Linked DNA regions of Homo sapiens: region 1 is linked to region 2. Evidence: fine-mapped expression QTL. Tissue or cell type: thyroid. Region 2 holds a variant in brackets; the other region holds the start of a gene. All regions are shown on one strand. Distances are between the middles of the regions.

What was found. PIP is the estimated chance that this variant, and not a neighbour inherited with it, causes the effect.
Region 1: SELENBP1 starts here. The variant in region 2 is fine-mapped to the expression of SELENBP1 in thyroid (GTEx, PIP 0.95).

Annotation. Positions count from the first base shown.
Region 1 is chr1:151,369,294-151,377,397 of GRCh38, forward strand. It overlaps SELENBP1 (selenium binding protein 1), which reads right to left and starts at 3,412. Exons shown (of 12, transcript NM_003944.4): 1 at 3,345-3,412; 2 at 420-476; 3 at 149-261. The coding sequence starts at 3,348. RefSeq lists enhancers at 677-1,348, 1,349-2,019, 2,766-3,349, 3,350-3,933.
Region 2 is chr1:151,457,800-151,465,903 of GRCh38, forward strand. It overlaps POGZ (pogo transposable element derived with ZNF domain), which reads right to left and starts at 1,695. Exons shown (of 19, transcript NM_015100.4): 1 at 1,353-1,695. RefSeq lists silencers at 796-845, 1,036-1,085 and an enhancer at 1,916-1,965. The variant A/G (reference allele first, on the strand shown) is at 4,884.

The sequences.
Region 1 (8,104 bases), 89 kb before region 2:
GATTTCAGCACTCCCCTTGTCCCAGGTTGAGCGTGCACAAGCATCCCCAGGGAGGGCCAAGAAGGATGGAGCTGGGAAGGGGGGGCCCAGGGCCAGGGATGAGGGCAGCTATGGTCTCAAAGTAGCTGGCGCCCAAGCCCCGCCTAACCTGGCAATACTGGGGAGACTTGGGGTCAACATCCACAGTGGCCAGATAATCTGGGGCCTCAGTGCCTGTGTTTCGGTAAATGCAGGGCAGGTAGACGATCTCTTCCCTGGGTCCTGCACGGTAGAAAGCAGGCAGCAGGGACGGCAGGGTGGGAAGGAAAGGTAGGGGAAGTGCTGGGTGTGCCAGAGGGTGGGGGCTAGGTCTGAAGTCCCTCCACCCCCAGCTGTGGAATCAGTAGTAGGGCGCTGGCTCTCAGACCATGGGCAATTACCTTTCATGGCCTCCAGAGGGGTGGAGTAGCCGGGTCCACAATTCCCACATTTCGTAGCTGTGGAAGCAATGGGGCGCATTGGCTGGGCCACGCTCTGGAGGGTGAAGGCTCCCTCCGCACGTTCTGCAGCACACATCCCAGCGGGCCACGGCAGTGCGGCTGGCCTAGGTCCCCACTCCAGCCTCATCGCTCTGGCCTGTCCTCTCCGCCCCCTCAGAGCCCTGAGGAGGGTGAGGTTGTGCTGGGAAGAGCTGGAGACACATGACCTGAAGGTGGACAGACAGTCCAGCAGGGCCCCGGGAGGGTGGGAGGAGGGCTGATGCAGCCGGGGTCGTGTGGTGTAGTGAATATGACACGGACTCGGGGCCCAACCCCAGCCCACCACTGACTAGCCAGGGGAGCTTGGGCAAAGTACTGAAGCTCCTCGACCTCAATTTCTGCATCCTCTGTAAAATGGAGATGGTAAGAATTTCACAGTGGGCTTTTACGAGAAGTAAACACGAGGGTGCAGTAGGTGTGCAGCTCTGTGTTTGTCTGGTCGAAGCCCAGGCACCCTTGGCTGTTCTTGAGGAGCTGCTCTCAGGGAGTGGGGTGGCGCCTGCTCAGCTCCCTTCACCAAGATGCTTCTATATCAGGGGGAGGCCACTTCCTGCTTTTCTCTCCCCTGGGTCCTGATCCCAGGCTGCTAGCCAAGGGCTGGATTACATAACCGAGGGTCTGGGGCTAATACCAACTGGAAGTCCTCAGGCTGGTTTCTACCCCTGGGTGTGCCCCACTTCCTTTATCTGTAAAGTAAGGTGTTTGGCCCAACTCTGGAGAGCCCAGAGGCCTGCCCACCAGAGAGATAGGGAGCAACCCTCCCTATCTCTGAAGTCTGGCAAGAGGGGCCATGCTAATCTCCAGGATGTAAGTCAGCAGATGTGCAGTAGGGCTGGGACATCACAGCTACCAGCACCCCAGCATCAGAGTTTGGGGCCTGCTGGGGAGCAGGGGTTAAAGAATACCCAGAGGGGGTGGCAGGCTGAAAGAAACCCTGGAGTGGAGTCCACAGGCCTGGGCCCTGTCTCCTGCCTTGTCCTGTGGCCAGTCCAGCCTCTGCCTTCACAGCTGGGCCGCAAGTGGGGAGCCAGGAGTAGGCAGAGTGGGGCCTCCACTGGGGCCTGGGACTCCCACTCGCAGCAGCCAAGAGACTTAGGAAGCTGAGAGGCAGCAACAGCGTTCAGAGTCTGGAAACCTGGTTTCAAGTCCCAGTTTTGACGCCCCGTTTCTCCATTTTCTCCTCTTCATTTACGAAAAGTGGGCAATAATGATATTCTACCTACTTTGCTAGGTAGATATGGAGGACAAATAAGACAATGTATTCCAAAGGCCTTTCATAAAAATGAATTAGGCCGGGTGCGGTGGCTCATGCCTGTAATCCCAGCACTTTGGGAGGCTGAGGCGGAAAGATCACCTAAGGTCAGGAGTTTGAGACCAGCCTCACTAACATGGCAAAACCCTGTCTCTATTAAAAATACAAAAATTACCCTGTATTAAAAATTAGCCTGTATTAAAAAATACAGGCATACACCTGTAATCCCAGCTACTTGGGAGGCTGAGGCAGGAGAATCACTTGAACCTGGGAGGTGGAGGCTGCAGTAAGCCGAAATCACGCCACTGCAGTCACTCCAGCCTGGGCAACAAGAGTGAAATTCTGACTAAAAAAAAAAAAAAATAATGAATTACTGTGTAAATATGGGAAGGGCTGTGCCAGAGGAGAGGAGAATGCCAGGGAGTGCTCGATGCCCAGCGAGAGGGCTGGAGGTGGGGCAGGGAGAGAGAGAGAGGTCCAGTTCACAGGAGTTAAGGAGACTGGTTCTGTTACACAATCTTGCTAAGTCGGGGCTTGGCACCAGATGACAGGGGGTGGGGAAGGAGGTTGCTGGATACAGAAGGGAAAGGAGATTTTAAAACTCCAAGACCTCAAGACAGAGATACAAAAAATACAAAGCTAGGGAGAAGCTGAGAGGGAAGTAAAAGTGCAGAGATGGAGCTGCCCGCTCTGCAGCCTCGGCCCACCCCACACCCCAGCAACCCCAGCCCCAGCATTTCTTAGGGTCAGGCCTGGCATGCCACTGCAGCCCCAGGGAGCATCATTCCTCTTTCTGGGGAATACCCCCATCTGAAACATCTCAAGCAAGGTCTCGGAGCAGCTTTGGGTTTGGGATGGACTCATGGAAAGCTCAAGTGGGTTTTCCATGTCAGGCTGGCTGCTGGGCATTCTGCCAGCTCGGCATTCTGCCAGCTCAAGAGCCAGCCCCGAGCGGGGAAGGACCTCCCAACCAAACCTCAGTTCCTTCTTAGCCTGTCACCCAGAAGCCTACAGATGGAGGAATAGCAGGGCCAAGGGGGATTTAGGGGTGGGGGAGGCATTGAAACAGGTCCCCAGTGAAAGAGTGTGGGGGTCTCTGATTTCCCTCCCAGAGAGCTTTGCTGTGTGGAGTAGCTAGAGAGTGACCTGGGCACAGAAAGGCTTTGGACTCCCTACCTCGCTGGAGTACAAAGTTGGCCCATGGCTGAAATCAGGATCACCTCTCTACTATGTGAGGGCCAGGGACCTAGTGGTGTTTTCTAAGAGCGCCCATCTGATTTTCCCAGCTGCAGAAAGGCACCCTGGTCCCAGCCTCTGCTGGATGGAGCCAAGTCAGGGCCCAGGATCCCATCTCCCAGCAGTGCCTCTGCCCGTCTTCCTCAGAAAGTTTGGCTGAGCTGGGAAATGCAGTGGGGTGGTGGGGGAGGGGGTGTGCAGACTGGGGACAATGAAGCAGAGTCCACTACTCCCTCCCCAGCTCCCCACTCAGGTTTTCTAGCATTTTCTGGAGGAGGGCCTTCCAAATTAGGGGCAGACAGAGCAGGCAATGGGTGATTGGAAACCCCTCTCCTTACCCATGCTGCCGACTGGTACACTTTGATCCCGGCGGGTTTGCTGTGCTGGTGTCAGAGGCCGCTGTTCCGGGGAAGGAGCGAAGGGAGGGAATTTATACAACCAGCTGGGGGTGGGGCAGAGAAGGAGGAGGGCCCGGGCTGTAGCCCAGAGTAAACTACTCAGGGCAGCTGGCCAGGATACTCTCAAGTGGCCTAGGGCAACTGGTGTTTGAATTATGGGGTGTGCGTGTATGTGTTTAAGTGTGTATGTGTGGGAGCCTGTGCTTTATTTATTTATTTATTTATTTAGAGACAGGGTCTCACTCTTGCCCAGGCTGGAGTGCAGTGGTGCGATCTCGGCTCACTGCAACCTCTGCCTCCTGGGTTCAAGTGATTCTCCTGCCTCATCCTCCCGAGTAGCTGGGATTACAGGCACCCACCACCATGCCCAGCAATTTTGTATTTTTAGTAGAGAAGGGATTTCACCATGTTGGCCAGGCTGGTCTCAAACTCCTGACCTCAGGTGATCCACCCGTGTCGGCCTCCCAAAGTGCTGGGATCACAGGTGTGAGCCGCTGCCCCTGACCAGCTCGTGCTCTTTAGTGGGTGCCTGGGTGTGTGTGGATTTGTGTGTCTGGGCATGTGTGTGTTCCTGTATACCTGCGTGTTGCTCGTGCACGTGCCTGCATGAGTGTGTATCTGTGCCTGTGTGTGAATTTCCACGTGTGTGAATGTGCCTGTGAGTGTGCTTGTGTGTATTTGTGCGTGTGTGTGTGTGCGCGCCTCTGTATGTGCCTACCAGAGTATCTACGCCTGTGTGTGTGTGTGTGTGTGTGTGCGCGCCTCTGTGAGTATGTGCTTGCTAGAGTATCTACGCCTGTGTGGACATGTGCATAAGTGCTTGTGTATGTGTAGTGTGTGGCTATGTGGCTGTGCATGTGCTTGTGTAAGCCTGCGCACGTATGTGTTCCTGTGTCTCCAAATGCTCGTCTTTGTATTTGGACCTGTCTCTTAGCATTTAGGGGCACCCGGGACTGTGGGCCCATCAGCCAGGGTCACTTCTTCCCTAAGATTGCCCTCTTATTCCAGATATTCATACTCTTTGGATAAAAGCTCTGGGGTGAAGTTTTTATTGGCTAGGAAAAAGAATAAAGTCTGGGCTTGAGATTGCAAGTAGAATACAGGGTTTCCAAACCAGAGTGGGGGAAGGGGAGCAAAATTGGGCCTTGGTGCATTGGGTATCTGTCTTCCTGGCTCCCATCAGTGAGGGATCATGTGCCCATCAAGGAAGACTCCCTGTGGCTGCCCGGGGCAAGGGTCTTCTCTTATCCCCAGCGCCACTCAACCCCTCTTGGCTCCATCCTGCATCTATTATCCTCACCATTGTGCCATCAGCCTGCCAGGCATCAAAGAGAGTCTTGTGTGTGCAGCTGCCCCACGGGGAAGGCCCTGAAGGCTGCTTCCTTGTCTTTGCCAGCTTCCTCCTGTCCTGACTACCTCCACTCACCCTGCCTTCACCCTTCCCTCTGGCCCTCCCCTCTTCCTCCTCCTGAGGTCTCCATCTCCTGCCTCCTCTCTATTCTCCGGCTTCTTGGCTTGGGTTAGTCCACCACCCAAGATCTGAAAGAGAAAGAAACTTTATCCCCACCTTCTCATAAAAAATTATTGAGTCATTAACTTAAAAAAAAAAAGGCTGTTATTTTGTTTGTTGTGGTCTGTCATTGACTACCTCTTTCATGCTCCTGAGCTCTGACCTGGCTGGTCTCTGCAGCAACTCCATGGCACCCCTCACCTCTGCCTGTGGTTTTCTCCCTGAACTCTTGCTCTACAGCCAGCAGGTGGTTGGGGAAGTTATCCTAATCTGGGCTACAGAGGGAGGCAGTAAAGGTAGAGGGGCGATTCTCCTGCCTCAGCCTCCCGAGTAGCTGGGACTACAGGTGCCCACAACCATACCTGGCTCATTTTTGTATTTTTAGTAGAGACGGGGTTTCACCATGTTGGACAGGCTGGTCTCGAACTCCTGACCTCAAGTGATCCACCCACCTCCGCCTCCCAAAGTGCTGGGATTACAGGCCTGAGACACCGTGCCTGGCTGACCTGGATAATTTTTAAATTTTTTTTGTAGAGATGGGGGGTCTCACTATGTTGCCCAGACTGGTCTCAGACTCTTGGGCTCAAGTGATCTGCCTTGGTCTCCCAAAGTTAATTTTGGATTTTTAAAAAAATAATAAGTACTGCTTTTGTAACTAAAAGCTCAAATAAATATATTAAAAGAAAAACTATAAGGAAGATGAAAGGAAGGATGGAAGGTCACATGCAGTGCAGGTGAGGGCCACAGTGAGGGCCCATGCTGGGGAGAAGGACTGGCCCCGGTCCCTTTTGAGCTACAGCTCTCCCAACCAGCTGCCTATCCTTCCCTCTGGAGCACCTCTTTTGAGCCAGATATGGTAGACAAAGTGGTGAACAGGGCAAAGTTGCTACCTTCATGGAGATGACTTTTTAGGGGAGATGACTGATAATCATGCAAATACACAAATAAATAAAATCACTTCAGATAAGTGCTGTGAAGGAGTAGGGTAATGTAGGGGTGATGCAGCATTAGGTGGGGTTGCTTGGTATGTATGGGTACAGAATTATATGCAAACAAACAGTACAAAAGAACTAAAACAAACAAACCAAAAAGCACAAACGTGCACAAAATGCCTGTAAGGCATAAAGGTAGCAGCCCATGGAGGTCTGAGGCAGGACTGGCTGGAGAGGTTGGAGTTTTCACCAGCTAAGTAGAGTTTCAGAGCCCTGTTCTGCTCATTTCTCCTTATATTAACAGACCAACTCCATACCCTCAGGGATGTGTAGGAGATGTGAAGGGAGTAGCGTTTACTGAGAACCTGCTACTAGAGGTGACGGGCGCCATGCCGGGCCCTACACACTAACAATTAGCTCAGGTTCCGCCCATGGCACAGCTGGAGAGGTTAAATGCCTTTTTCTTTTTCTTTCTTTTCTTTTTTTTTTTTTGAGACAGAGTCTCCCTCTGTCGCCAGGCTGGAGTGCAGTGGCGTGATCTCTGTTCACTGCAACCTCCGCCTCCCAGGTTCCAGTGATTCTCCTGCCTCAGCCTCCTGAGTAGCTGGGACTACAGGCGCATGCTACCACGCCCAGCTAATTTTTGTACTTTTTAATAGAGATGGGGTTTCACCATATGGCCAGGCTGGTCTCAAACTCCTGACCTTGTGATCTACCCGCATTGGCCTCCCAAAGTGCTGGGATTACAGGTGTGAGCCACCGTGTCTGGCCTGTAAATGCCTTTTTCTTCATCTTACATTCAGGAAACAGAGTTTTCCCAATTCACTCCGTTGCCCACACTTAATGCACTGTTTCTGAATGACAGTGAGTTCAAAGCCTGCTGCTCAGGGTAATAACATGGCTCAGAGAAGAGAAATAATTTTTTTTTTTGAGACGGAACGTCACTCTGTCACCCAGGCTGGAGTGCAGTGGCAAGGTCTTGGCTCACTGCATGTTCCATGTCCTAGGTTCACGCCATCCTCATGCCTCAGCCTCTCGAGTAGCTGGGACTACAGGTGCCTGCCACCACGCCTGGCTAATTTTTCATATTTTTAGTAGAGACGGGGTTTCACCGTGTTAGCCAGGATGGTCTCTATCTCCTGACCTCGTGATCTGCCTGCCTCGGCCTCCCAAAGTGCTGGGATTACAGGCGTGAGCCACCGCGCCCGGCTGAAATAATTTTTTTTAATGCCCTCTGCCAGGGCTGTCTATAAAAAGCATGATTTGAGAACCACTTGGAGGACTTTCTCCTCACTGCCAATCCACTCAGAAATATCCTCCCTTTGGCCTGCCATTGATGCTTGAAACTTCACCAATAGCAGTTTATTTCTTTGTGTTACTACCAGATGGCCTCTTCTCACCTCCTGGCTACAGTGAATGTCTCTGGAGTGGTAACCCTTTAAGCTCCTAGTACTGCAGCGCCACTCAGTTTTATCAGAAGCCTGTGTCCCAGTGGGCAGCACTGAAGAGTGGCTGGGGGCCTATCATATCCAGGGAGATGCTAAGGTTGGGGACAGAAGGTGTTTAAAAAGCAAATGTTATCGTCTTGACTCCTTACCTCTATTGCTTAAAGAGAAGGAAGAATAAACAGTGAGGTGGCTCACACTTGTAATTCTAGCACTTTGGGAGGCTGAGGCAGGTGGATCCCTTGAGCTCAGGAGTTCAAGACCAGCCTGGGCAACATAGTGAAACACTTTCTCTACAAAAATTACAAAAATGAGCCAGGTGTGGTGGTGTGCACCTGCAGTCCCAGCTACTCGGGAGGCTAAGGAGGAGGATCACTTGAGCCTGGGAGGTGGAAGCTGCAGCAAGCTGTGATCATGCCACTGCACTCCAGCCTGGGCGACAGAGGAGGCTCCATCTAAAAAAAAAAAAAAAAAAATTATAAGCCATTTTGTTTCAGTTATGCCTCCTAGCCTGTAGCCTCCCTCCACCCTGAATTTTTTTGAAACATTGCTTTAATGTTTCAGAATATATCTCTTTAAAATAGGAATTCTGAATTGGGTATGGTGGCTCACTCCTGTAATCCCAGCACTTTGAAAGGCTGAGGCAAGAGGATTGCTTGAGCCAGGGAGTTCAAGACCAGCCTGAGCAACATAGGGAGACCCCGTCTCTATGAAAAAAAAATTACCTGTGGTCCCAGCTATTCAGGAGGCTGAGGTGGGAGGATCACTCAAGCCCAGGAGTTTGAGTCCAGACAGGACAACATAGCAAGACTC
Region 2 (8,104 bases):
GCCTGTAATCCCAGCTACTAGGAAGGCTGAGGCAGGAGAATCACTGGAACCCGGCAGGCGGAGGTTGCAGTGAGCAGAGATCGTGCCACTGCACACCAGCCTGGGCGACAAGAGTGAAACTTCGTCTCAAAAAAAAAAAAAAAAGTAAAACCCCATTTCTGTGGAGTTTTGAGCGGCGGTAAGAGGTGTCTACGGGCTTGGAAGGACGGGCTACACCGCTTGCATCAAGACGGCGGCTGCTGTGAGATAGTCCAACTGCATCTTAGTTTCCATTTCGAAAATGAGACTGGCCACTAAATGACTCTAAGGACTCATCAGCACTACCTTTTTCTGAACTAAGAATGTCTAAGACAAGTGCTACTAGCAGTTTGAGAGAATCCCACATCTGGAGAGGAAGGAAATAAGAACAACACGCAGAAAGACGGAAAACAAATAGATCAATGACAGTACTCCTTTGCAAAAGGTGCCAAGAATCTAAATAAAATAGTCCCCGGGATAAACATGGCGCCCACCGCGGCAGGACATAATCACCAGAAAATAAAGATTCCCCGCCTCATTCCATTTTATAAATCACGGCGCCATCCCAAAAGAAATTTGGGGACCGAGGGAGGAGACTTCGTAAACTAGCTGCAGTGCACTAAGGCTTAGGATGTACTATTAGACCAAGCAGAGATTACATAACACAAGGGATCGGCTCAGCAATCACTCATTTTCCTCCTCCCGCTCAAAACGAGCGCCCCACTCCTTCTCGGAGCGGGAATGGGGCGGGGAGGGCCGCGCACCCCCACCCCCAGGGGCCGCTCCGCCGCCGCCCGCCCCTCCGCCGCACGGCCTCGCCCCCTCGCCGGCCCCTCCCGCCGCGCCCCGCCGTCTCGCCACCGCCCGCGCCCCCGCCCCCGCCCCTTCCCCAGCGGGCCACCGCCCGCGCCCGCGCCGCCCACTCCTCCGAGACGCCTCGCGCCGAGCGTGCGTGTGGACGTCGGGCTGTGTGCGGGGCCGTGGGGCGCGAGTGCGCGCGCGCGCGCCGCGGCGGGCGCCGGGGGGCGGGGGCGGCCGGCCAGCCGGCAGGCAGGGACCTCCGCCGCCGGCCCTTCGCGCGGCTCCCGCGGCCCGGGGCGCACGCACACACACTCGCGCTCGCGCGCCGCACCCCGCGGCCGCCCCTGCCGCGGGCCGCGCCGCCACTCGCGGTGGGCGGGGGCGCGCACCGCCGGCCCCCCGCCCCCACCCCCGCGCGTACCGGCCCCATCCCCCTCTCATTGTCTCGCCTCTGAACGCCTCGCCGAGCGAAAAGATAACGGAACCCCCGGGAGCAGGGGGTGGGGAGAGAGAAGGCTCGCTCGCTCACTCACCTCCTGTGGTCGTCGCCGCCGGTAGTCTGACCCGAGGAAGGCGCCGTCGCCTTAAAGGGACCTTACACCCGGCGCCAGAAGGGGGTGGGAGCAGGGGGAGGGGACGGGGGCTTGGGGGGAGACGAAGAAGAGGTAACCGTTGAAAGCTCGTCTCCCCAAGGGTGAAAGGAAGCCTCCCTCGGGTTCGAGTGATTCGGGGTGGATTTTTTTCCCGAGGGGGGCGGGGGGGCCCCGAGGGAGGGGGGTGGGGGGGCCAAGGAATGCGGCTCCGTGTACGGGAGCTGGCGCGGGGGAGAGAGACGCCGACTCCCCCCACCGACCCTCTCGCCCCGCGGAGGGATACGGCTCGTCACTTCCGCCCTCCCCTTTTTCACGGCCTCCCAATTGGTCGGAGCGCGCTGCACGTCATGGGCTCATCCAAACCCCTGCCCGGGCTTCTTTTCTAGTCAAGTTTGGCTGGGCCTGCAAATAAATAAATAAAGGAAAACATTTTTTGTAATGAAAAAAGAATAATTAGCTTCAGAAGCTATATCTAAATTTTGGTGAGAAAAATGAGACTTCCAAAGAAAATATTCCCCAATTTACTTGCCAAGAGTTTCCAAGGAAGTGTTGGGAGGCTCCCCCACTTTCCACTCAAGGCTTAGACCCAGTCAAGAGGGAGACTTCATGACACAGGCCAGGTGGTGAGGCCCAGTGGCACCAACAACTGTCATTGGAACAAAGAACAAAATGGCACTCACTCTTTCTCAAGAGACACTCGGCCAAGTAACCTTGTGGCTGCGGCCTTGTTTAAGTGAAGAACTTTTAAAAGCCATTTTGATCCTCAAGCCCTTCTGGATCCTGGAAAGAAGTGGCACACGATTGTTAAAGCGATTATTGTGATGGAAACTGCTTTGCTCCCATTGTGAGTAGATTCAGCAGAGATCCCCAGTTCCAAGAAACCACACACACTCCACATCCTTATGCTTTTTGCTCCAATCAAGGCTGAGATGGGTTGGCTCAAAGAAATTGGTTAGTCCACTCAAACGACCATCCACCTGTTTATTCTTCCCCAGACAAAAACTACCTCTTTTCAGGTAGCTAAGAAATTTTGTCCTTTATTGCCTTCTGAGATTATAAAAATGTAATATTTTCCTTGAATATTTGAAAATGTTTGCTATTTAAGCAATACACAAATATTTGCTTCAAACCAAATGTGAAATCAAGGTACTTGGTGCAGAAAGGGGAAATCCAGAACTATGTTTATTTGTGCTCTTTATATACACACTCCATTCAAACCACCAGACTGAAAATAGGCAGTGGAAGTAGGCATTCCAAATTGTATGCACCTGCCCGTGTGAGTGTGCACATGTGCATACACATACACACACTGCCACCACCCAGTTTCATTCCATTTCATACCAAAACCATGTGAGTGATTTCCACTAGTGTAGGATGCTTAGGAAGGACTTCATTATTTGAATGAGAAGAATCACTAAATCCTTCTGAAAATACTTCTGAAGACTTTCCAGACCTGATCTGGAGAAGCCCATATTAGGATTATGGGATCAATCACCAAAAGACTACATGAAACTCAAATCCTATTTTATACTGTCGTGTAATTAGTATAATTCATTATATATGTTATATTTACATTATGTATATTACGTTATTAACCTTTGAAAAATTCCAACATATTTCCCCATGCCCTGTCAATTTATTCTCCCAGCCAATGAGATCTAGCGCAGACTATGCCATATACCGTTGACCAGTAACTGTTAGCATGCTTTATTGAAAATGGATCATGCATCCATTCATTCATTCAATGAATATTTATTGGGGGCTGGGCATGGTGGCTAACACCTGTAATCCCAACACTTTGGAAGGCCAAGGGAGGAGGATCACAGCAGTCTGAGGGCAGCCTGGGCAACTTAGCAACATCCCATCTCTACAAAAAAAAATTTTTTTTTTTTAAACAGAGTCTCGCTCTCTCCCCCAGGCTGGAGTGAAGTGGCGCGATCTCGGCTCACTGCAACCTCCGCCTGCTGGGTGCAATTCTCCTGCCTCAGCCTCCTGAGTAGCTGGGACTACAGGCGTGCGCCACGATGCCTGGCTAATTTTTTCTGTTTTTAGTAGAGACGGGGTTTCACCAAGCAGGCTGGTCTCGAACTCCTGACCTCGTGATCTGCCCGCCTCCGCCTCCCAAAGCGCTGGGATTACAGGCGTGAGCCACCGTGCCTGGCCCCAAAAAATTTTTTTCATTAGCTGGTTGTGGTATTCCTAGATACTTGGAAGACTTGGGAGGATCACTTGAGGCCAGGAGTTTGAGACTGCAGTGAGCTATGATGACACTACTTGCACTCTAGCCTGGGAGGGACAGAGCAAGATCCTGTCTCAAAAAAAAAAAAAAAATTATTGAGCACATGTACTAGGCACTGTTTTAGGTGCTGGGAATACAGCAGCAACAACAACAACAAATACCTGAATCTGTGGGATTTATACTCTAGAAGGAAAGAGACATAAAATATACACATAAACAAATTGTTCTATTGTCTATTGTTAAATAACAAATGACCCCGAACTTAGTGGCTTAAAACAACAATTTCATTACCTCTCATGGTTCTGGGAGGTAATTAGGCTCAGCTAAACAGTTCTCACTTGGGAGTCTCGTATGCAGTGGCTAGGGCTGAAGTAATCTCAAAAGCTTCCTTACATGTCTGGAAGTTGAGGTTGACTGTTGGCTTGGACCGCAGCTGGGGTTGTTGGCAGACCATTTACAAGTGGCTTCTCCATGTAGCCTGGGCTTCCTCATATCATAGTGGCTGAGTTCCAAGACTGAGTGCCCCAAAAGGACCAGACAGAGATCGTGACCTAGTCTCAGAGGTCATATAGTGTTACTTCCATTACAGTTACAGGATGGAGAGCATAGATCCCCATCTCTCAACGGGAATAGTGGAAATGTCACATTGTAAGAAAGTGTGCGGAAAGGGAAATCTTGTGGCCATCTTGGAAAATGCAATCTGATATACATTATGTAAATAAATATGGATTATATGAAATGGTGATAGGTGCTATGAAGGGTAAAGGGCAGGATAGGGGAATTAGGAGTGTGGTGCAGACATGGGGGTGGAGAATTTGCTATTTTATGTGGGGTGATTGGAGAAGTCCTTGTTAAGGTGACATTTGGGCAAAGACCTGAAGAAAGTGAAGCAAAGTTTAGGTTTTACCTGTAGTGAAAATGAAGCTGCTGGAGGATCATAAAGCAAGTAGTGACACGGCCTGACTCACGTTTTTAAAGGATCACTGTGGCTGCTTGTGAAGAATAACTAATAGAGGCAAGGGCAGATGCAGGGAGACCAGATAGAAGGCTATTGCAATAATCCAGGTGAGAGTTGATGGTAGCTTGGACCAGGATGGGAGTTGTGAAGCTGCTGCTTCAGGTGATTGAGTTCTGTGGTGTGTTACTTACTCCTCTCTATTTTTCTGTCATTTAGTTTGTGCCCTGGGAGACAGTTTTGACCCATAATGCCCAATAAAATGAGTGATGGTGCT[A/G]TGCCTGCCACCAAGAATACAGAAAGTCTATCATGCTAAATGTAAAAGTGGGAGTTTTGCAGGATCTGGAGGCACCTTTGAGGAAATGGGTGAGGAAACAGAGGGTAAAGATCAACAGGCAATTAGGGAATGGAGTGTCTTTTGACGTTGTAAAAGGTATCCTGGCCAGGTGTGGTGGCTCATGCCTGTAATCCCAGCACTTTGGGAGGCCGAGGTGGGTGGATTACAAGATCAGGAGTTTGAGACCAGCCTGGCCAACATGGTGAAACCCCATCTCTACTAAAAATACAAAAATTAGCCAGGCGTGGTGGCACATGCCTGTAGTCCTAGCTACTCAGGAGGCTGAGGCAGGAGAATCGCTTGAACCCGGGAGGTGGAGGTTGCAGTGAGCCGAGATCACACCACATCACTCCAGCCTGGGTGACAGAGTGAGACTCCATCTCAAAGAAAAAAAAAAAAAAAGGAAATGATGAGCAAAGACATTTTATACCTTCAGAAGATTTCAAGGAAACTCTGCCACCTTACATTACAACACTGGTGCAGCACTTCAAAAGAGACTATACAGTTAACACTGCTATTTCCAGAAACGTATTCCTTGTGCTAAAGAGAGAATGCTCATATTAATTTGGACAGTGTTGGAACATTTTGCTTCTTCAGCTAAAACACAGGTTTCCAGAGTGAAGTAACAGAACTGATAGCTTTGGTCTCTCTTTTGGACCATCTGGATAATGGTTTGAACCATCTTGATGATGATGGGAAACCCAAGTAGTAGAACAAATAACCTGAATCAGATCCTTAGAAATCAACTCGTATGTGCCTCTGTAACATACTGGGGAGGAATCTGAAAGCCAATCCAGTCTGATATGTTGAAGAAATTTGATCCTAATAGTGGTACTCCTAAAAATTATTCCAGTCTTCAGTAGCCAACTTAGAAACTTTTTCTAAGAAAGAAAGTCAAAGGTTAATGGATGTCCCAAGCTGAGCTTTTCAGTTACATAGCTGGAGAGTGTTTCTTTTCTACAGTTTATGGAAATACTTACTTGCTTCCTTGACTTACGGTTTCTGCCACAAGTTGAAAATTGGGGCTGGGCACGGTGGCTCATGCCTGTAATCCCAGCACTTTGGGAGGCCAAGGCAGGCAGATCACCTGAGGTCTGGAGTTCAAGACCAGCCTGGCCAAAGGTCTTTAGTAGAGATGGTGAAACCCCATCTCTACTAAAAATACAAAAAATTAGCCAGGCGTGGTGGAACGCGCCTGTAATCTCAGCTATTTGGGAGGCTGAAGCAGGAGAATCACTTGAACCCAGGAGGTGGAGGCTGCAGTGAGCCAGGATTGCACCGAGCCAGGATTGCACCATTGCACTCCAGCCTGGGCAAGAAGAGTGAAACTCCATCAAAAAACAAACAAACAAACAACAACAACAAAACATACAAAAGAAAATTGGAACCACCTGTAGCTTGGAGAATGTTAAAGAAGAGAGACAAATGATTTCAGCATGTCTTCAAAAGCATTGAGTCATGGATGCCCTCGGTGGCATCATTTTGCTAAAATGCAGACCTAATCACTTATTGTTCAGGTTCAGCGTGAGGTTGACTGGTATGTGTTTGGGCGGGGAGTAGGGAGGCTCAGATGGTGAGGTTAGTCCAGGCAGAAATAAGCTTCGTGGGAGATAATGCCAGATTTCTTTAAGAAATGGGTAACAGCCGAACACGATGGCTCACGCCTGTAATCCCAACACTTTGGGAGGCGGAGGTGGGCAGATCACAAGGTCAGGAGTTTCAGACCAGCCTGACCAAAATAGTGAAACCCCGTCTCTACTAAAAATACAAAAAATTAGCCGGGTGTGGTAGTGCATGCCTGTAATCCCAGCTACCTGGGAGGCTGAGACAGGAGAATTGCTTGAACCTGGGAAGCGAAGGCTGCAGCAAGCCGAGATCACGCCACTGCATAGCATCCCGGGCCACAGTGTGAGACTTCGTCTCAAAAAAAAAAAAAAAAAAGAAAGAAAGAAATGGGTATCCCACTCTCTGTAATGCACACTCAGGATTGTCAAAGCTGGAACCTCAAAGAGAGCTACTCATTTCAGAAAACGTAAGAGAAAAACAGTAGAGACATTTTTACCATCTGAGCAGCTCCCAGGTGGAAAAGATGGATAGCTGATTGCACTGAGCCTGGGATTCAGCATGTGTATAAGTCAGCATGTGTGGTGGAAGGAAAACATTGAGGTGCTTAACTTGACAGGCAAATTGCCATGAAATAAAGGGCAAGTGGAGATCTACATTTGACCAATGTCAAATTAAAAAATGGGGAAGTTAACAGCTGTGGCCGGATTTTATTTAGGAATATTATTTGCTACCTTCTTATGTTTAGAAGAGTTGGGGACTTTCCTAGAGACACAGGAGGTGAGAAAAAGCCTGAGGAAGTTCTCAGCCTGGGTTTCTAAAGGAAGAATTCCCATTAGCTTTCAGTAAGAAGCAATTAAGATCTCTGTCTTCAAAATATATTTCATAAGAAATGCATGAGCAGCAGTGTTATCATCATCAAGAGCTCACTGTGAGTTGCTGCATGGTTTCCTAGGAGGTAATGATGTAGTTTAACTTCGAATTAAATTAATATTTTAAAGAGATACCCAGAAGCAAAGCTATACTTGTCTAATCTAGGTTGTTGCTATGGAGTTGACCAGGTATGATTATCAAGTAATTAAATTGACTCCATAAAGCTTCATGACAAAATAAATTGGACTATTTTATAGGTATGCTTGATATATGACTTGTTCCTGATAATGGATTGCAGAGTAAAATGTAGTAAAAATTCCTTTTCCTCTAGCATACATTCTTTTTAAATTTAGCAGTGTTTATATTTTATTATAGTCATGCATAATTTTCAGAATGCAACTGTGGACAGTAAATAGCTTTTCCAATTCATATTTTTGAAGGACATGATGATTAATATCATTGTTTTACAGATGAGAAGACTGAGGTATCATTCAGAATTAATTTTTTTTTTTCAGGCAGAGTCTTGCTTTGTTGCCCAGGCTGGAGTGCAGTGGTGCAATCTCGGGTCACTGCAGCCTCCGTCTCCCCAGTTCAAGTGATTCTGCTGCCTCGGCCTCCCGAGTAGCTGGGATTACAGGTGCCCGCCACCATGCCTGGCTAATTTTTGTATTTTTAGTAGAGCTAGGGTTTCACCATGTTGGCCAGGATTAAATTTTTTAAAGGTT